Linked DNA regions of Homo sapiens. The protein of the gene in region 5 purifies or fractionates together with the protein of the main gene of each other region. This does not show direct contact. Each region holds a gene or a part of one and is shown on either strand. Other genes may lie near its edges.

Region 1 (4,167 bases), on a different chromosome or scaffold from region 5:
GCTTCACTTCTCCCTGTAAAGCACTGACATTCAAAAGTATTATCTGTGAAAGACAGTCTAATGGGCCATAGAAATCCTTTTTGGTGTATATGGTTAATGGTAATTGTTAAAATTTAAAGTAAAAAAATAAAGACATTTATAAACTTGACAAATACACAAAATAATGTCTAAAGAAATTCTCAGCAAAATCAGCTTCAGACAAGGATCTACACATTTACAGAGCTTAAATATAAAAGTCATAGTGGACATCCTCAAAAATAGTTGCTAAATTATTTTCTTTAAGCAAACCCAGATCTTAAGTAAAGTGAAAATCCCTGAACTTAATTTTAGCTAATTACTCCCCACTATAAGGTAAAATTTAAAGTACACTTTTAAAACAAGACTAAACACTAAAATCTTACTTGGTATCTAGAATTGGTCCAATCTTTTGTAGAGATTTGGCCACATTGAAGCGAACATTTGCTACTTGGTCTCCTGCCATTTTTAATACGATGGGCAGCATTTGCTTAGTAGTTATTTCCTGACCACAGGCCTCAGACAGTGCCTAGAAAAATAAGTAAGATGGCACATTTAAAATACTTTAAAAAATTCCAAAATCTAATGAAACAAATTAATATTTAATAAGAAAATAATTGACCAATAGGAAAATATTTCTAGTTTGAGCAGCTGAGTGGGGGACACAAGAATCATTCAAATGATCAGAGAATTAGACCAGAATTCACAAATAAGTTGAACTTTTAAAATACTGTAGTTTTGTTCTTTGTTTTTTTTTTTTTCAGGCGGAGTTTTGCCTTGTCGCCCAAGCTGGAGTGTAGTGGCGCGATCTCAGCTCACTGCAACCTCTGCACCCTCTGCCCCCTGCCCAAGGTTCAAGGGAGTCTCCTGCCTCAGCCTCCCAAGTAGCTGGGACTACAGGCATGCACCACCATGCCCGGCTAATTTTTGTATTTTTAGTAGAGACAAGGTCTTGCCATGTTGACCAGGCTAGTCTCAAACTCCTGACCTCAGGTGATCTGCCCGCCTCAGCCTCCCAAAGTGCTGGGATTACAGGCATGAGCCACTGTGCCCAGCCAATACTGTAGATTTTAACATGAATTTTAAAATTGACATTTTCTCTCATCTCCTGTCTATTCCAATTAATCAATACAAGACATATATTCCAAATAGAAGACAGTATACTGATAATTCAGAAATAGTCATGAATAATTTTGCTTTAATGATTAAGCTTAGCAATAACAGTTATGTTATACTTACATTAATGCAGAATAAAGTGGTCATTCTATGCAAGTAATTAGGATCATTTGCCATTACTAACACTTTGGGAACAATAGTATTTTGGGCCCACTCTGTACCAAACTTCTGAACTAGTTTCATGAGGTTGTTGGTGGCAGCTTCTCGGATGGCGTATACTGCAGAAGAGGTCAAAAACATGTTCTCATATCGCTTATTGTTTTTTAAGCATAACCTAGTTTACTTACATGAAAATCAAATGTGGACCAAAAGCAAAACCCCTCTGCAATCAGACTCCACATGTAATCATGCTGCAATGACAAGCATGCTCAGCTCCAACTCAGTTTCCAAGTGTGCATATCCACAGAAAAGGGATGCAAGGAGCTCACCATATGCATCATCAATTATTTAACAAATACAAGTGCCTACTATGTGCTACAAAAAGAACACAGAAGATACTTTCCCTCACAAGAAATATGCTCTTATCAGAGAAATGAAAGCTAACACACTCCATGAAGTCACATGGTGTAAGAGCAATTAGAATGAAGTGTGGCATTGTGTAGTAAAGGCTGTGAGGGTTGTAGCAGTGCAGAGAAGAGTGAACAGGGAAGGTCTAGGAAGGCTTCGGCACAGAAAGAAGCCTTGACTGGGCAGTGAAGATTTGGGAGGATCTGTGTAAGTGGAGAGAAGCGGGGAGGAATTCCTAGAAAGGGTAAAGACATGTATCCAGGACACAAACAGAAAAAACTGAAACCTGTGAGACTTCTAAGTTAGACAATTAGGGTGGACCCAGACTGCAGAGCATTATGAAAGACTTAGATTTGATTAGGAAAAACAGTGATGGGTTTTTAAAGCAAACTTGTGACCTGATGACCAATGTGGAATTTTAGCAAGATTATTCCAGCAACATCACGGAGAAGCGACGTTGACTGAGAAAGACAACAAGGAAATGGTGTAGAGGCCACTGTGGTCATCTATACAACAGCAAATACAAACATCAGACTGACTTGCTTCCTCTCCATGAAAATGCTTAGGTTGAAACAAGATGTCAAATGTCTTTGAATCAATGTGCCTGCCTTAACATCTAATAATTCCCTATATCCTTTGATCATTTATCAAAGACATAAAGCTAGATAATAAAGGTCTCAGCTACAATCCTCTCACAATTAGTTGCTATATACAGCACTGAACAAAAACAAGCCTGGTGTCACTTCACTTTACAGATCCAGTAAGACTCAAAATTTGGGCTCAGATTAACAAATCGAGGGTGGTAGGTACTAATTCCTTATTCTACTTCTCTCCCCAGGTGGGCCCAACCTTCCTGGGATGATAGGAAGGGCAGGAATAGCTATCCAAGCCACAGTCCCAGTCCTAGGCAATTTATACAAGCCTCCAACCAAGAAATAGGCAACTTCTTCTATTCATAGATCCTTCTGGGCAATGATGTTGAGAACAAGCAAGACAGCATAGACAAGTGACCCATACAACTGATTATCAACACTTAAACTGACAGTCTACAGGAGAAGCAACCTTTCGGTAAGACTCAGATGCACTAAGGAGCAAACTCAAGTCAACTGTTTTACTGTAATACAGATTCCTTCCCTTCATATCCATAGTCTTTGTCTTTGGCCCAAACCCTTCCCTGTCCTCCCCACTAAAGAGGAGCTAGCTAGAGTATTTGTGTCTTCTCCTCTAATTTTTTTTTTTTTTTTTTTTTTGAGACAGAGCCTCACTCTGTCTCTCAGGCTGGAGTGCAGTGGCGAGATCTCGGCTCACTGCAACCTCCGCCTCCTGGGTTCAAGCAACTCTCCTGCCTCAGCCTCCTGAGTAGCTGGGATTACAGGCGCCCGCCAACACATCCAGCTAATTTTTGTGTTTTTAGTAGAGACAGGGTTTCACCATGTTGGCCAGGCTGGTCTCGAACTCCTAACTTCAAGTCATCCACCCGCCTCAGCCTCCCAAAGTGCTGGGATTACAGGCATGAGCCACCATGCTCAGCAAATTACTATTTTTTTTAACACGCTTTAGATTTTTATCATAATGCCATTACCATAGGAAGGGATCTCTACTGCCAGAAAAACCAGAGACTGGGGAACACACATGCATAGCCTTGACCAAGACCTTAACTGCACTGAACTCTACTTGGCCAGATGCCTACTATGTTCTTGGTTCCTCTGACTGTTTTCAGAAGAATGCAAACCATTCCAGAGTTCTGCCTGTTTTCTTTTGTCTATTTCTGTCTCTTTCTCTCTCCCCATCTCCTCTCAAGGCCTGGCTGACCTGCAAGGTTTCTTTGAATGTCTATCTATGCTCAATAACTGATACCTTCTCCTTTCTCCTATAATAAATAAATAAATTTCCCTTCTACATTCCTCCCTCTGATCAAAACTGTCTACTCAACCACAGGAATATAGGTGAGTGATACTTTCTTCCTTATACTTCTCTGGAATTTTCACAATGTTCTTTTAGTAGTTACCTAACTAGGGGAAAAGTTTCAAAAACTCTAACTGATCCAGTGATCATTATATAACACTTATCTGAAATGCAAAAGCAAAAAAGCTCCTGTGATTAAGTACAAAACAATTTCAGAGCTGTTATTTCATTGGTTCATGGAACTCTTGCAGTCCCCACTTCAGCATGCTGCTGCAGTGAAATAAACAAGGGTTTCTCCTGCTCCCAAACTGAAAGAGAAAATCCGAAAAGAGGAAGGAGTAATCAAGTTGCATAGAGAAGACAATCTTACAGAGAAAGGGTGCCAGGAATTTAATTCTTTGTGGAATATTAGAACTTTAAAAATTCCTCAAAATAAAACACCATCTTAATCTAAAATGCCAACTTTTAAAGAAAGCATAGAATGACTTGAGGCCAACCCAAATGCCCATCAATGACAGACTGGATAAAGAAAATGTGGCACATATACACCACGGAATACTATGC
Region 2 (4,167 bases), on a different chromosome or scaffold from region 5:
GGAAGTTCCGCCACGGGACCGGGGTGTTGACAGGGACGACCCACTTGTGTGATGAGACCCGCGGGGACTCCCGCCCTGGGGAGGCCCCAATAGGAAGCGGCACGGGTGCGGTGGAGATGCCTGCCAGGGAGCCAGGCGATGAGAAACCTCCAGCCCCCTTTCCCTGACAGCGCCACTTTGTTCCTCGGGCTCACTTGTTATTTGGGACGGCTCTGAGATCTCTCCCTGAGTTGATGAGAAGAGCTGTTCGTAATCCCCGGCATCATCTGAGTGCGGAAGAGAGCCTTCTTTTCTCTCTGCCTGGCAGTCCCTGGAAGGGCTGGAGCAGCTGGAATGGCCAAGCGCCTCCTCTGGCGCCTCCTGCTCAGGGGCCTCTGCTCCCCGTGCCCCTGAGTGCTGGCCCTGGGGTGGCGGGAGAGCGCACTGTCCCATCTTCTCCCAGGTGGTGGCGGCCTCATCTCTTCCTGGCTCCAACGGCTCCATCTCCTCCACCTTGTCCCACTGTTTCTGCACCTGGACACCTGCTAGGAGTTGCCCAGAAACCGGACTGCCACCCTCCAGCCAGTCAGCGTCCTCGCCGGCACCCGCTGCCCTTTCTTCCTGGAGAAGCTTTCGCTGAGTAGCTGCAAATTCATAAATTTCTTCCATTTCTGCTTCATTCACGTTTTCTTGATCTTCTTCGTGGTCCTTGGATTTCAACAAAGTCTCCGCTTCCTCCTCTTCATCTGCCCACATTGACCTCAAGAGTTCCTGGAAATTCTCGGCCCTGCTTTCGCAATTCTCTGCTTCCTTCTCCTCCCATGGTTTGCCCTCTGAGTCAGTGGCAATAGGCACCTGTTCGCACAGGTGAACGAGCTCACTCACGCCAAACCTGCAACACGAAACATCGACAGTCATCGCCCCTCTGCGTGGAGATGGGCTCTGGGTGCCCCGGTGGGGTGGCGGACCAGAGCAGAGTCTTCACCAGGAGGAATGACCATGACCCAGGCCCTGCTTCCCTTTGAAGACGGTGTCCACACTCCTTGCCAGAAACACCCAGGCCACTTAGTTCCAGAAACCGGGGACTGACAACACTTAAAGCAGGGCTTCCTAACTATAGCTGCAGACATAAAGGGGTGTGTCGGACTGAATGTAAGGTAACAGGGATTGGCAGAGCTACAAAACTGGGGAGTCTGTGCTGCCTCAGAGGCTCTTAAGATATGGTGTCAGAGCCAGGCATTGTGGCTCATGCCTGAAATTCCAGCACTTTGGGAAGCCGAGGATCACTCAAGGCCGGGAGTTTGAGATCAGCCTGGACAACATAGAAAGTCTCCATCTCTACAAAAAAATGTAAAAATTAGCCTAGGAGTTCAAGGCTACAGTGAGCTGTGATCATGCCACTGCCATCCAGCCTGGGCAACAGCAAGAGACTCTGTCTCTAAAAGGATAAAAAAGGTCATGCATGGTGGCTCATGCCCATAATCCCAGCACTTTGGGAGGCGGAGGCAGGAGGATTGCTTGAGGTCAGGAGTTCAAGAACAGCCTGGGCAACACAGCGACACTCCGTCTCTCCAAAAAATAAAAAATAAATGAAAAGACATGGCATCAGACACAATCCACAGCACACCAAGTCCTTGAGTCAGCCCAGGCCAACGGGCAAGCCAGCCAGCCACCTGCTTGAAGGCTCTGTGGCCCGTCAGTATATTTCCAACTCCAGAGGCTGAGCTGTTCCTTTCCTAAGAAAGCAGCGGAGGGAGGACGCAGGCTCGGATCAGCGGCCCAGGCCCTGTCCAGAGGCACAACACTTGTCCCTCTGAGCTGCTGCCTCTCTCCTAAGATGCTGGCTGGACAAGCCAGGAGAGCTGTGGCATCTGGGATGCAGCCTAAGCATTCTCTCCATGCCTGTTTTATGGGACTCTGGAAAGGACTGCTGTTGTTCAGGTCTAGTGGTGGAACAATCACTGAGCAGCAGTGTTGGGGGGCGCTGTAGCCAAGGGCCATTCTCTTATCACACCTAGGGGGTTAAAAACCACGGGACTCAATAGAGTCCTCCTGATCCAGTGCTTGGCACCCCTGCAAGGGTCTGTTCTGGCCTGACTTTCACCTAACATGCCCTGTTCCACAGGGTCATCACTGGTCATGGACTTGGGATTAAAAGGTATAAACAGGACTGTTAGTTCTCTTGGCCTCAGCCCCGAGCCCTCTGCAGCACAACCCTCCAGAGCTGTTAACCTGCCAGTCCTCGTCAGTTAATTTCAAAAGCTGGGGAGCAATCCAGACCTGTGGGCCAGGGAGCTCAGCTCAGAGCTAAGGCCAGGAGGAAGGCCAGTGTCCGCAGTGTAGAGATAGTGCAGGAACGTGCGGGCGGCCTCGGTGCTCACGTCACCCAGCAGGACACGCTGGGTCAGAACCCCGTCCTCTACAGCGGAGAAGCCTTCATTGTTCACCTGCAGGTGAAATGCAACACAGAGGGTTTACTGATCAGAGAGTTGTAACTTGGAGCAAAGCAGACGGTCTGGGGTGTCCTGCAAGTCACTAGTCTTTTTATTTTTCTTTTTAGAGACAGTGTCTCCCCTTGTCACCCAGGCTAGAGTACAGTGGTGTGATCATGGCTTACTGCAGCCTTGAACTCCTAGGCTAATTTTAAATTTTAATTAATTTTATTATTTTGAGTTGGAATCTCTCTCTGTTGCCCAGGCTGGAGTGCAGTGGTGAGATCTCGGCTCACTGCAACCTCCACCTCCTCGGTTCCAGCGTATTCTCCTGCCTCAGCCTCCCGAGTAGCTGGGATTGCAGCCGCCCACCACCATGCCCGGCTAATTTTTTATAGTTTCAGTAGAGATAAGGTTTCACTATGTTGGCCAGGCTGGTCTTGGAACTCCTGACCTCAGGTGATCCACCCTCCTCGGCCTCCCAAAGTGCTGGGATTACTGGCGTGAGCCACTGCGCCCAGCCCCTAGGCTAATTTTTAAATTTTTTTGTAGAGATGGGCTCTCACTGTGTTGTTCAGGCTGGTCTTGAACTCCTGGCCTCAAGCGATCCTCCCACCTTAGTCTCCCAAAGTACGGGGATCTCAGGCATGAGCCGCCGTGCCTGGTCCCTAGTCTTAAAAGCAGCTCCATGCCCCAGGAAAAGCATTAGCCACTGTTTATGCAGATTTTTGGCCAATAATTTTACAGGTGAGGCCTAACACTCCTCTTTTGTCAAATCGTATTGGGACTAGATATTCCAGGACCCCGTTAAGAGTCCTCCTGATAGACACATATGGGATCCAGAACTTTGACAAAGACTGAGAATAGCTCCCTGAGTTCCTGCCCACACTCAAGTCAAATGCTTTCAAGTCAGAAGGCAGGTTCATCAGCAACTCATCCCTGAGGAGATCAATTATGAGCCTTTGTAATTATGCAAATAGAGAAAAGAGAAAACAATTCTGGGAAACAATGGATTTTCTTTTTGTTTTGTTTTGTTTTTGAGACAGAGTCTTGCTCTGTCGCCCAGGCTGGAGTGCAGTGGTGCAATCTCAGCTCATTGGAAGCTCCGCCTCCCAGGTTCATGCCATTCTCCTGCCTCAGCCTCCCGAGTAGCTGGGACTACAGGCGCCCGCCACCATGCCCGGCTAATTTTTTTGTATTTTTAGTAGAGACTGGTTTCACTGTGTTAGGATGGTCTTGATCTCCTGACCTTGTGATCTGCCCGCCTCGGCCTCCCAAAGTGCTGGAATTACAGGCGTGAGCCACCGCGCCCGGCCAAACAATGGATTTTCATTCAACAGAACGAAAACACTGATGTTTCCCAGTTGTGAGGCCATCCCCTCACACCCACTCCTAACCTCAAGCGTGGGTCTTTATCTCTTCTCCACGTGTTGCAGAAACGGATGGTTGGGAGGGAGAAGGTGAGAACATGGTGGGGCAGGAAGTGAGGGAGAGTGGGGGGGTGGAAAGGGCACCTGAGACATGGGAAGACCTGGTTGGAGAAAGGCAGGAGGAGAGAGGGAGAGAGAGGAAAGGAGGGCACACGGCAGCCCACGTACTTACATACTGGATGAGGAGCGGGCATCGGGCATAAAGCACGAACTTGTGGGCGTAAAGCACCTCCCCGCTGTCCGTCTGAAACTGGACATCACTCAGGTGTGGGTTATTGACCATGGCGCCAAAGTCAGCAACCAGCAGCCCGAGGGAGAGCTGAAGC
Region 3 (4,305 bases), on a different chromosome or scaffold from region 5:
GACACGGACGCCTTCGTGCTCGTCTACGACATCTGCAGCCCGGACAGTTTCGACTACGTGAAGGCCCTGCGGCAGCGCATCGCGGAGACCAGGTAGGGGCCCGGCAGTTCTGGCGGTGGGGAGCTAGGACAGGTCTGGCAGGGCCTTTGCCTGAGGAGAGTGTGTAGGGTCTCCCAACGTCGTGGGCCGGGTCTTAGGCCTTCGCCCGTGGGAAGGTCTTAAGCTGTATGTGCTCTTTGGCCCACATGGGCCTGGGGTTTCGTTGGGGCGGCGGGGGGGGCGGTGTCTCTGGCCGTAGGAAGGGAATGCGCCTGCGTGTGTATACCCACTGGGGGAATTCTCCGGCCGTGGGGTCCCCGCGTCTCTCATCTCCATTCGGCCCCCAGGCCGGCGGGCGCGCCCGAAGCGCCCATCCTCGTGGTAGGCAACAAGCGGGACAGGCAGCGGCTGCGCTTCGGACCGCGGCGCGCGCTGGCCGCCCTAGTGCGCAGGGGCTGGCGCTGCGGCTACCTCGAGTGCTCCGCCAAGTACAACTGGCACGTGCTGCGTCTCTTCCGCGAGCTGCTGCGCTGCGCTCTGGTGCGCGCGCGCCCTGCACACCCGGCCCTGCGCCTGCAGGGGGCGCTGCATCCCGCGCGCTGCAGCCTCATGTGACCCGATCGGACAGTGCCATCCATGGGCCCCACCTTGTGACTGGGACAATCAGGGACCTGGATTGGACGGGATCGCCCAACTTCACTGGGACTGGACAGGGAAGTCTCCGCCCTGATTGGATGAGGAAAGCTCCAACCCAGTCTCCTAAGCGACTGGCCCCCTTTTGAACCTCATTGGACCCAACCAGGTCCCAAGCTCCATTGGAGATGACCAGTCCTTTCTGGGACCTCAATGGGTCACAATCCCATTGGATGGAAAGGACTTGGCTATGAACTTGACTGGAAACACGCAGCCTGCTCCTGGAGCTTCACTGGACATATTCTTTATGCCACACCTACCACGGGATAATAAAAGGGAAAATAATTTGAGTGCGCCTGGGATTTCTGGGCTGGGCGGGATAACGCCTTAAGCCTAGAGGTCAGAGTTGCCAGGCTTGGCCTCCAGGCAGTTAACTCCAGGGTCCTCGAAAGGGTCTGAATGGCCCCAAGGTGGAGTCCCCAAGAAACAGACAGGTGGCTGGAGCAAAACTTTACTGTCAGAGGCTCTGCTGGGCCACAGGTCTTCAGAACACCGGGCTCGCCCGGCCTCCTCTAAGGCATTCAATAATATTAGTAATTAAATAGCAACGCTCATCCCCCAACCGGAATGTACAACAGAGGTCCCATTGTGCCATGTGGTCCCAAGGGGTCTGGTCCCATGAGGTCTGGTACTCAAGAGGCAGAGGGGGCTCCCTGATGCAGAAGGGTTAAGGCCACAAAGGAAAAGGAGAAGGGATGGGGTCTGGGGACAGCTGAGCTGGTCCATCACATCCAGGAATCTGGCTCAGCCCTCGGGGTGACTGAGTGCAGGGCATGCCATGTCCCCAGCTCTGCGGGTCCGGAGGGGCGGCGGGGGCCCCGAGGCGTGGGGATACGTGAGGGTTTACGGTCTGGCTGTGTGTCCATCCGACCCCGTGCCCAGGTCCTCGAGGGTTCAGTGCAAGCCAGGGGGCTCCCAGGTGCATCTAGTGGCCCCCCCATGCCAGGGCAGGGGCTGCCTTCATCGGAGGAGCTGGAAAGGGCTTGGCTTCGGGGCCCAGGCAGCCCATTGGCCGTCCGGCCAGAGTCCCCAGGTTGGCCACATTTGCCACCCAGGACGCTGAGGGACGAAGAGGAGGAACTGGAGGAACAATAGGCAGAGTCAGGAGCTGGAGGGTCGGGGGCCCGAGCTGGGTCAGGGGCTGGTCCAGTGGGGGTCACGCTAGCAACAGCCTCAAGGGCCCGGGCATTGGCCAGGAACTCCTCTTCCAGGCGCCGGAACAGCTGCTGCTCCTGCTGCGGGTCGAGCTGCAGGGGTGTGCGGAAGATGCTGGCCGGTGTGGTGCCCAACTCTGGACTGGGGCTGGAGACCCGGGAAAGCCGGGGTGCTGCAGGGCTGCGGGCACGGGGAGTCTGGGGGGTGCTCCTGCCCGAGCCCCCACTGCCCCTGCCCCTTGGCACCCATGAGTGCTGCCCGTCTCGATCCCTGCGCACAAGCAGCACAGCCTGCTCCTCGCGGCTCTGGCTCCGGGCCCGCCGGGCAGGGCTGGGGACCGACAGCTGGGCTCCCCTGCCTCCTGGGGCCCCCCGGGGCCGGCCGCGATCCAGCCGGTCTCGGGACTGGCTGCGCAGGGCAGGAGGCCGTCTCGGAGAGGCCGGGGTGCCTGTGGTCAGCCGCCGGCTGGGTCGCTCCCTCCGGGGGCCAGTGCCTGTGTCATCACTGCGGGTACCAAGGGGGCCGCTCTGGGCGGAGGAGGCTGAGGAGTCACTGTCCCCGGAGTAGCGGCGGGAGCGGGGATGGGGGGGCAGCTGATCCCGGGGCCTGGGGCAGGGGGACAATAGAGACAGATGGGGTACCACGGAAGGACTGGCATGCAGAACAGGCAGGGAGAGGAACAGCAGGGTATGTGGCTGGTGGACGGGGCTGTCAGGGGCATCGGTCTGTCCTGGGGACTTCCAGGGAGAAGTGAGCAGCTTCCTCCAGCGGCCCAGGGCCCCAAAAGCCACGGAAGAAGAAGTTTCCTGGGCTCTAGACACCCCCCTTCCCAGGACGGGCCAGAGGAAGCAAGAGCTGGACTGGCTGCCGCCCAGCCACAGGGCCCGCCCCAGCTGTGTTGTTGGTTTGGTTGGGTTGCCATGGAGATGGGAAGCCAGGCCCGCCCCCACCCACGGGAACTTTTCCCAGGGTGTGAGTCACTCTGGCGCACAGGCAACCCATCATGCAGGCCAGGGCTGACGCCCCCCCACCCTCTGGACCCCTCACTCCTCGTCCTCCTGCATCTCACCTGGGTGGGGTCTCGGGCCCCTCCTTTGTGCTTCGTAAGCTAACGGGAGTCATCTCAGGCCGGGAGCCCCGGCGCTCACTCCCAGGGACTGGGCTAGCAGGGCGGGGACTGGTGGTGGGCGACACCCTCTGTGGAGAAAAGGTGCAGACCCTCGGCTGGGGTGGGCGATGAGCTGCGGGGAGAGAGGACAGGCAGCATGTGAGGGACAGAGCCACAGAAGCAAGTCCCCTGCCCGTCCAGCCCCAGCCCCACCCTGGCACTGACCAGTGGAGGAGCAGCGGCACGGGTCGTGCTTGTCCAGGTAATGCTCCAGCGTGTCCCAGCCACCACCCACTCGCACCATCACGTGGCTCCTCAGCACCTGCAGGTGTGGGCAGGTCACGGCTGTGCCCCGGGCGCCCCGCAGCCCACCACCTTGGCTGCTGCCCGCTGGGGCGGCCCCAGGCCCTTACCCGCACAAAGATGAGCAGGCTCGAGTCCCCCACACGGTACTTCCCCTCTGAGACCTTGATCATGGGAAACTGGTCAGGGCAGGTGCAGCGGCCCAGAATCTCCCTCACCTGAGGCCAGAGAGAGAGGGTAGGGGTCAGAGGTCAAGTCCTCCTCCTGGGGCTTAATGTCAGCCATTCCAGGGTCAGGAGGAAGTCAGGCTTTCCGGGTAAGTGGATGGAGGCAGTGTTGCCCCGGATGGGGTACAGCTTCCACACGTGACCTTTCTTTTATTTTTTTTATTTTTTTTTATTTTTTTTTTTTTTTGAGTTGGAGTTTTGCTCTTGTTGCCCAGGCTGGAGTGCAATAGCACGATCTCGTCTCACCGCAACCTCCGCCTTCCAGGTTCAAGCAATTCTCCTGCCTCAGCCTCCTGAGTGGCTGGGATTACAGGCATGCACCACCACTCCCGGCTAATTTTGTATTTTTAGTAGAGATGGGGTTTCTCCATGTTGGTCAGGCTCAGGAGTTCCACCCGCCTCGGCCTCCCAAATTGCTGGATTACAGGTGCGAGCCACCACGCCCGGCCCACACATGACCTTTCACCGGCTCCCCTTTCTTGGCTCTCTGGGTCCAGGGAGCTGCCCAGGATGAGATGATGGGACTGTGGTCAGGCCATGGTCTGAGACCCGGTGACGAACATCCCACAGCCCCTAGACCTGGGGAAGGCCCAGAGCCCGTCCTCACTCCCGCTTCACCCACTTCTCAGACAAGAAGGCTGGGGCCCACAGGAAGGCCAGGCAGGCTACAGGACACAGGTGCAGGGGGCCCCATGCCCCTGGGTGGGCACTGATGTGGAGGCGTACCACAGACACATCGGACACATGCACACACAGACCACTGGCCGGGTGAGCACGCAC
Region 4 (4,167 bases), about 90 Mb from region 5:
GAGAATGGTGCCTACATCAAAACTAAGTGTGCAGGTTAAATGCCAACAAGGCCCACAAAGCACTGAACTCCAGTGCCCGGCACACCACTGGCACTTGACACACGGTAGCTACTACTAGAACCATAATGCCCAAGTCACCCGCTCCTACCTGCCCCCAGGAAGGGGGCACTGTGGGGATGCTGCAAAGGCCCTTCGATGAAGGCGAGGACAGGGGAGGGCACAGCTGCTGGGGTGCGGCAGGCAGGTTGCCCTCCTGTCAGCCCCTGAAGAGACTATCCCAGCTGCACAGAGCTGCCTCGCCCAAAGTCACCATCTTCCTGGGCAGCCCACAGCCAACAGCTGATCCATGAGGGAGTGTGAAGGCCAGGCCATGTCAGGCCAACTAGGATGACCCTAAAGGACTTTTCCAGCTCCCAGGCTCCCTGCGGGGTCAGGTCCCAGCAGCTCAGCTCTCCTCTACCCACTCCTGATTCCTTCTCCATCTTCCACAGGTGGGGACCCCAAAAGCACCTTTTAATAAGCCCTTGTATGGTCAACTCTGTCTCAGTCAGCTTCCCAGGAAACCCAGCCTATGACAAGTGGTTTATTTGTGGGGTTTTTTGTTTTTGTTTTTGTTTTGAGACAGGGTCTCCCTCTGTCACCCAGGCTGGAGTGCAGTGGCATGATCATATCTCACTGCAGCCTCAGCCTCCTGGGCTCAAGCAATCTTCCCACCTCAGCCTCCCAAGTAGCTGGGACTACAGGTGTGCACCACCATGCCTGGCTAATTTTTGTGTTTTTTGTAGAGATGGGGTCTCACTATGTTGCCCAGGCTGGTCTTAAACTCCTGGGCTCAAGCAATTCTCCTGCCTCAGTCTCTTGAGTCGCTGGGATCACAGGTGTGAGCCACCACACCCGGCTTGTGTCCTTTTTCCTTAGAAAGGGAGAAGAGGACCAGTGTGAGGAAGATAGGTGGATCACATGGAGGAGACGGTGGGGCACAACTAACAAAGGCACGGTGCCCTCTGCACCCCACCTCTGCAGTGTCAGCAGTGGTGCTAAAACAGAAGCCACACTGCACTAGGTGGTGTAGGCCAGGAGCAACGCCTAGAAGACCAAAAACCCAACAACATGGACAGAGAGACACAAAGAGGCAACGGGGACAGGGGGTGGGGAGGATGGCTGGAGGAGGAAGTAGGCCCAGCAGAGTAGGGAAAGAGACACGCCTCTGTAGGATCCTATTTTACTAAACCCACAAAGACCAGCCATGGAAAGTGCCAGGAGAGTTCCCGTGCCAAGTTAATCAGTAACTGGAAACTGGGCATCTTGAGACTCTAAGGGCTTACAAAGGTGGCAACAGGGATTCACAAGCTCTTCCCACAAAGTCAAATGCCCAAAGGGACACCTTCAGTTCAACCTAGGAAGGGGCCCAAGCTAACCCAAACATCTACTTTGCTTTGCTTTTGGCCTGAGTGACATCACCTCTCATGGGGAGTTGTGTCACTCTGACTCTCACTGCCAAGCGCCCTGCACCATTAAACATTCTTCTGTTTGGAAGTAGAATCTAACCATTATTTAACAAATGTAGCGTGTTGGGTAGACAAAATCTTTCAAGTAATACCAGATGTAGGGGAGGAAAAAGTATCTGTGGGAGGGAGCCCCTCAGCTGTCCAGCCTCCTCAGGCTACCGACAAGGGAGGAGTGGTCTGGAGGAGCATGTGGTCTCTTCATGGTCCCCACACAGGGCCAGGCAATGACTGCCAATCTTCAGACCGAAAGACTTCCTCCTCTGCCCCAAGGTAGGTCGCAGAAGAGCAGATGGAAGCTCTGCCACCAAAGCAGGTGTGGAGCAAACCCTCTCCTACATAGCTGGCAGCTCAGCCCTGGCATGAGCTCTGCAGGAAGCAACCAAGCCACACCTAAAGGACACAAACCACGCAGCCCCACAGTCCCACTCCTGGGAGCTCATCTTGCAGCTACGCCTGCCCCTTGTAGGTGGGTACATTCCAAAGGCCCATCAGTGAGGGCTGCTTAGGTGACCTTAGGTGACCTAGGCACATTGCACAGCAGCCACGTATAGCCAGCTGAACACATGCTGATGTAGAGCCACTGCCAAGACGCTGTGCAGTGGAACAGCATGCCACCACTGGGGCTGGCAGAAACACACACATGCTTATTACACCCAGAACACTTGACTAGACAGACCAGGGAAAGAGGCTCGATTTTCACTGTGCGTGCTTGCTTATCTGTGAAGTTTATACAAAAAATGAATAAAATACACGATTCCGTTTCTAAATGAAATTCCAGAATAGGTAAATGCCATAGGGACAGAATGCACATTGGTTGTTGCCAGGAGCTGGGAGGGGATGGGGGAAACAGGGAGCAATTGCTTTATGGGTATGGGGTTTCCTTTTGGGTTGACGAAAACATTTTGGAACTGGACGGAGGTGTTCATTGTACAACGTTGTGAATGTATTAATATTAAACACCACTGAATTGTTCACTTCAAAATGGTTAATTTTACATTATGTGAATTTCATCTCAATTAAAAAAAAACCATAAAAATAAATAAATAAAATAGGCTTCCAAATCTCTGCTTGGGAGACTGTTTGGCAATGCTGGTTAGACACATGGGCCCTGAGGCTGAACTGAACTGTCAGGTTCAAGTCCCAGCAGTACCCAATATGACCTGTGACACCGCCAGTAAGTAATTTAATCTCCCTGAGCTTCCGTTTTCTCATCAGTAAAATGGGCATAATGGCAGAACCAGCTTCCAAGGATGCTGTGACCAGTCAATTCAATAGTCAGCATCAAGTGTTCAGTACAGTGCCCAGCACAGACCAGGCCTACAGGGACTCTGTGCTTGCTGTCTGCTCTGCCAAGAACACCATTTCCCTGGGAAAACACATGGTCCAGTCTCCTGCCTGCCTTTGCTCAAATGCATCTTCTAGGTGGGACATTCCCTGATCACCCAATTTAAAACTGGAAATCTCTCTGCCACCCCCAGCCCCAGGGCTCCATTCCCTTTCTCTACCTTGATTCTCTCCCTAGTACTTGCTTATTTACTTCATTCACTCCCTGCCTCCTTCTACTACATTGTCTGCTCCAGGGAGGCAGAGGTTCCTGTCTGTCCTGTTCACTATGTATCCCCAAGACCTGGAATAGAGCATGGCCTCAAGATAGGTGCTCAATAAATTTTAATATATGCTGAATGGATGAGTAGCGTCAGCTAATACCGTTGCTCTGATGCACAGCATAAACTTGCATCTCAAGATAAAACTGCTGTTTGTGTTGTCCAATGAGCTTGAAATTTACAACTAAACAAAAGTTTAAATTAAAAGACCCACAGTATTTCCAGCTAACTATTACTCCCAAATGTGGGAATGTGCTGAGGAGAAAAGATAGTTCACAGTAAGATGGTGCCATGTGCTTTAAAAAATAAACCAGTAGGCCGGGCACAGTGGCTCACACCTGTAATCCCAGCACTTTGGGAGGCTGAGGCAGGAAGATCACTTGAGCCCAGAAGAACAGCCTGGGCAACCTAGAGAGGACCCCCCACCTCCACGTCCCCTTCCTCCCCTGCTTCCTCTTAAGTAGTCCTAGCTACTCAGGAGGCTGAGGTAGGAAGATGCCTTGAGTCCGGGAGGTCTAGGGTGCACTGCACTCCAGCCTGGGCAACAAGGCAAGACCTTGTCTCAAAATAAATAAATAAATAAACAAATAAATAAATAAAAATAAATTTAAAAAAAGTAAGCCATAAACAGCTACCCTGACCTCAGCCTGCTGAGTATGGGGTGAGAACTGGCTCCCACAAGGTTCTCATGAGAAGCAAAACACAATGCTACCATAAGCTGCACACATCCAGCAGCCCAGTGCCTCAGACCCTGGTCCCTCAAAGGACCTTGGGACACTTGCTCGTTCACGGAGAATAAGCGTAGACTGACAGCAGTAAGCCAGCTGTCTTCCTCTCCCAGGGCCTTCCCTGTCCCTGCCCTCCACTAGGCAGAGCTGCTACCCCAGCAGGACTCAGGCTATGGGGAACACGGGGGTCAATTATCCAAAGTTAAAAACTGAAAAAGAAAAACCCCTCCGATTCTCTGCGAATAGGCTGTCTTTCTAGTTAGCTCTCTTATGAGACAACTAATCATTACTCAACAGAAAGATACAACTACCACTAAACCTCGTGCA
Region 5 (4,167 bases):
CATGCTCATGAACTGTTTCAGACATTGTCAGTTTTGTCTCTACAAGTGGATTTTAAGCTCTTAAAGAATCATGTCTTCTCTCCTTTTGTACTCTACACTAACCTTACACAGGTCTACACAGGCATGCAGTAACAACTGGTCTCTTGGTTGGCTGGGGAGGGTGACGACTAATATTAAATGCCTACTTTGTGTAAGGAACCTTGCTTATGTTTCACACAAGTTATTTTGATCCTTATTATTTCCACCATAAAGATGAGGATATTAAAGGTAAGTAATTTTTCTTTGGTCACAGAGCTGGGAAGAAGATGAAGGGTATGGGGAGGGCAGTAGGAACCAGTCTGAGTCTAAAGTCTTTGCTTTTTTTTTTTCCTCTATCATCTTGTATAATCTTTGCTTTTTACTGACTCTGAGCTGAGTGAGATCATTCCTAGTGTAGGGCAGAGCTTTAGTAGAACAAAAAATGGCTAACAAAAAAGTTTTTCTTTATAAAATTTTCAAACACTAAACATTTTTTAAAGAGTTCCTAGGACTCAAAATTGTTGGGTCTTACCTTGATCACCTCTGGAGTCTGCTGAATCAAAACTGCTGAAGTAGTATCTTTGGCTTTATCACCAACAGGACTTCTACAGACTGATAAATTGGCCTGGGAGGAAGTTGTCAAGGTTTCCTGTAGAATTTGCATCATTTCCTTTTCTTGTGATAGGCTCCCTCTGCTTGATTTGCATTCAACTAGTTCTTGAGCAAAGTCTTCAATGCTTTCCAGGATTCGCAGTAAGAGGGCTCGATCCTCTTCCTCTATTTTGTGTCCATTGGTTTCAATAATCCTTGTTAGACAGGAAGGTGAGACTTTTTCTATGGGTGAAGAGACTTTAGATTTAGGCTCAAGATCTACAAGGGTCTGACCGGTCAACTGACTGTGACTATTTAAAAAATTAGAGTTTTTACCCTTCGCAAGTGGCTCTCTTAGAGAGGTCTCCATCTTCTGTGAAAAAGATTCCAAATCCATTAACAATTTATCTATCTCTTCCTGGCTACTGGAATTTGTAAAATCTCTCTGGTCTCCCTCTTCAAATTTAGAAACTTTTGATTTACAGTCTTCCTTAGGTAGATTAACAAATGATTTCTCAAATATCTTACCAATTTCATTTTGCATTGGGGTGGGGCATTTTTTAAGATGAGTAGCATGTTCTGGAAATTCTGCTCTATGTTCATTTACCTTTAATAACTCATGACTAGGTCCATTCTCTGTCTTTTGTCCTTTATCTAATGCTTTCTTTCCATCTGACTCTTCTTCAATATAAAGAGTTTCCATTAAGTCGTCAGAAGAAACATTTTCTAAAGGATTCATGGTTAATGACTGTGATTGGACCTGGACAGCTTTTAGAGTTCTAGGATCATTTACCTCTAAGTTATATAAGGAATTTGTGGAGTTGTTTGGAATGGATTGTACAGTGTCCATCTTCCTAGAATTAGGCTTGTCATTTTGCAATTCAATAGTTTGAAATCGTCCAGAGTCAGAAGCTGAGAGCTGGACAACATCTTCATATTTAGGGGGTTGTTCAGTGCCAAACACTGGGGAGAAGGGAGTCAGTTGTAAGCTAGGCATATTACTGATCAGTTCTGTTAAATCTAGAGCCTCATTATTCCCAGACTGCATGAATTCAAATGGTAACTTTTTCAGATAGGATGCTAACCTGGTCATTACATTCATATAGACAGTTTCAGAGCTAGAAATTGTATCATTACCACTTCCTTCACTGATGCTACTCCCTGATTTTTTCTTTATGCATTGTTTTATGATGTCTGTGCATTTTTTTAAATCCTCGGAGCATTTCAATAAGATGTCCAAGCACATCTTTATGTCTGTCCCAGAAGAAAAATTATCTATTTTATGTTTTTCCAAAATCTGAGTAACCAAGTCTTCTTCAGAAAAGTTTTGAAGAAACATGGAAGTCAGGTTCGTATCCAGTGAGTTTCTATGAGACAAAGGTTTTTCCTCAACTGAGGAACTCCGCAGTAAACCAAAGGATGGGGCGTTCCCATCGTTGTTATAATGGCCACAAAGCAAGTCCAAATCAACTGACCTCCTATTAAATGAGTCAGACTTAACTTTCCTTCCCTTTCTGTAAGCTGCATGGTTAGAGTTTTTGAGTTTTTCAAAGGAAAATTCTTTTATTTTCCCACTGGCAAAACTGATTGCTTCTCCTGCAATATCCTTTAAGTTGTAGGTATTCTGAAATGTAGATCCTCTCTTGACCCTGGGTATGCCTGTGAAGGCCTGTTGGGGATAGTCTCCTTCAGCCGAAGAAAGCCCATTTTCATGGGGTAGAAACATAGAGTTCAGATCTGCATCTTTGAACTGAGACACAGGGATGTGCAAGAGGTCTGCACAAACACTATGGTGTACCACAATGCAGTCAATTCCATGTGTGAAGGTGTGGCAGGTTCCAGTGCAATAATGTATAGCTTGTTCAAAACGCCGGTCTATCACCACGCTGCTGTAGTGGTTCACAGTACTAACCACAAGTCTGTAAGTTGCTGCCATAATATCAAATCCACTTACTGGTGGGACTTGGAACTTTCTAGAACTTGTTTCATGAAAATTCTCCTAAATGACAGTTAGCTGAAAATATATTTAATAACAATGTTCAGTGGTTTCTTCCAAATATAATGGCTTTTCCCATGAAGGGAAACCATTTATATTTGAGGTTTGGTCACTATCAGGATACAGTAGCTGCTGCACATGTGTGGCAAATTTAATAATTTAATAATTGTGCTTTTTAATTTTATTTAGTAATATTATGATACTGCAGAATTATTTTGATGAAAGAATATCCTCTTTTAGTTCTTCAACAGTTCTATAACATGGAAATTTGCTCTCATAAATTTACTATCATAAATCTTAGTTGGTAGTAGAGAAGTATTGTGATAACTGAGTCCTCCAAAGGTTTAAATGATTCATTTTTCTGTGAATGACAGAGAAACCTGTAATAAAAAAAAAAATTAAAAGGAAATTTTTTTAATGCTGGAACTTTTGATTTCCTCTTTCTTTGCATCCCATTTGCAGTTAACCACCACGCTTTATTATCTGCAATATCCCTTACAGCTGATATTCAACTCATGCCTTTGTTTCATCACACCTTATACTCCTTATTGCCTAGAGTAATATTACCTCAACTCTGCCTTGTCACATCTGCCTCTGAGATGAATTTCTTATTGCATGCTCCTTGCCACCTTATATGATATTAAGAAGCTTAGATTTACACGGCATTTTCATCCCTCACAGCTTAAAAATTCACACTTCTGATTTCCTCATGGATCACAGCAAGTCTACCTCTTTTGACTCACTTTTAAGTCCCTCAACACCTGTTCCAATCCATCTATAATCATATTTTCTACTATGTCCCTGCACCAACCTTTTGCTTCCATCAACCTAGTCTTCTCAAAGACTACCAACACCTAGTACCTGTTCTTGAGTCTCAAACTTCCTCTACTCCTAGAAATTATTCTCCCATCATCTTCTTTTTGCTTACTGAAAGAAAACACAAGTTTCATTACTGATCTTGATCCCATCTCCCAGACCCTGCTCCATGTGGATATCTCTCTCTCTGCATCAAGTGGACAGAATTTACTTAATCATTCTTTTTAAAGAACAGCTTTTAAAATATACTGTAGTTGCTTTCCAAGAAGGTTCTGTCAATGTATTTATTCCGTCAACAAATACTGACTACCTACTGTGTGTACCAGGTTCTTTGTATACACTAGGGATAGAGCAGGAAATAAAACAAGGGGAAAAAACCCAACATACAAGTTAAACATATAAACTTATCATATGGTGGCATGTGTTGGGGAGAAAAATGATGCAGGGCAAGGGTTTAGAAATGCTGGGAGGGTGCTGTTTTATGAAGGGTTGTCAGAGAAGACCTCACTGACATCTGAAAAGCAGAGACCTGAAAGACTAGAGGAAGGAGGCCAAGGAGGTATTATGAGGTAAATCCTCCAGGGTAGAATAACCGCAAGTACAAAGGCCCTAGAGTGGAGCATGCGTGATTCACTAAAAGAATGGCAAAGTGACCAAAGTGGGTGGAGCAGAGAAAGCAAGGAGACAATGTGGGAGATGACATGGCCTGTAGTCCCAGCTACTCGGGAGGCTGAGGCAGGAGAATG

What was found.
Region 1: the proteins of PPP2R3A (region 5) and PPP2R1B purify together in Homo sapiens (affinity purification with mass spectrometry; 2 studies listed by BioGRID and IntAct, with this or other methods). This does not show direct contact.
Region 2: the proteins of PPP2R3A (region 5) and SLX4 purify together in Homo sapiens (co-immunoprecipitation; one large-scale study listed by IntAct). This does not show direct contact.
Region 3: the proteins of PPP2R3A (region 5) and GAS2L1 purify together in Homo sapiens (co-immunoprecipitation; one large-scale study listed by IntAct). This does not show direct contact.
Region 4: the proteins of PPP2R3A (region 5) and LIMD1 purify together in Homo sapiens (co-immunoprecipitation; 3 studies listed by BioGRID and IntAct, with this or other methods). This does not show direct contact.

Annotation. Positions count from the first base shown.
Region 1 is NC_000011.10:111,742,122-111,746,288, forward strand, and holds part of PPP2R1B (serine/threonine-protein phosphatase 2A 65 kDa regulatory subunit A beta isoform), read right to left. Parts: intron 1,410-4,167; coding exon 1,255-1,409; intron 545-1,254; coding exon 402-544; intron 24-401; coding exon 1-23. UniProt on the Homo sapiens protein: The PR65 subunit of protein phosphatase 2A serves as a scaffolding molecule to coordinate the assembly of the catalytic subunit and a variable regulatory B subunit.
Region 2 is NC_000016.10:3,590,440-3,594,606, forward strand, and holds part of SLX4 (structure-specific endonuclease subunit SLX4), read right to left. Parts: intron 4,161-4,167; coding exon 4,014-4,160; intron 2,427-4,013; coding exon 2,260-2,426; intron 872-2,259; coding exon 1-871. UniProt on the Homo sapiens protein: Regulatory subunit that interacts with and increases the activity of different structure-specific endonucleases.
Region 3 is NC_000022.11:29,309,650-29,313,954, reverse strand, and holds the end of GAS2L1 (GAS2-like protein 1), read right to left. Parts: intron 3,517-4,305; coding exon 3,409-3,516; intron 3,318-3,408; coding exon 3,221-3,317; intron 3,129-3,220; coding exon 2,957-3,128; intron 2,494-2,956; coding exon 1,458-2,493; 3' UTR 1,168-1,457; downstream 1-1,167. Other genes in the region: RASL10A (ras-like protein family member 10A), read left to right, coding at 1-92, 387-654. UniProt on the Homo sapiens protein: Involved in the cross-linking of microtubules and microfilaments. Regulates microtubule dynamics and stability by interacting with microtubule plus-end tracking proteins, such as MAPRE1, to regulate microtubule growth along actin stress fibers.
Region 4 is NC_000003.12:45,597,515-45,601,681, reverse strand, and holds part of LIMD1 (LIM domain-containing protein 1), read right to left. Parts: intron 1-4,167. UniProt on the Homo sapiens protein: Adapter or scaffold protein which participates in the assembly of numerous protein complexes and is involved in several cellular processes such as cell fate determination, cytoskeletal organization, repression of gene transcription, cell-cell adhesion, cell differentiation, proliferation and migration.
Region 5 is NC_000003.12:135,999,877-136,004,043, reverse strand, and holds part of PPP2R3A (serine/threonine-protein phosphatase 2A regulatory subunit B'' subunit alpha), read right to left. Parts: intron 2,986-4,167; 5' UTR 2,546-2,985; coding exon 551-2,545; intron 1-550. UniProt on the Homo sapiens protein: The B regulatory subunit might modulate substrate selectivity and catalytic activity, and might also direct the localization of the catalytic enzyme to a particular subcellular compartment.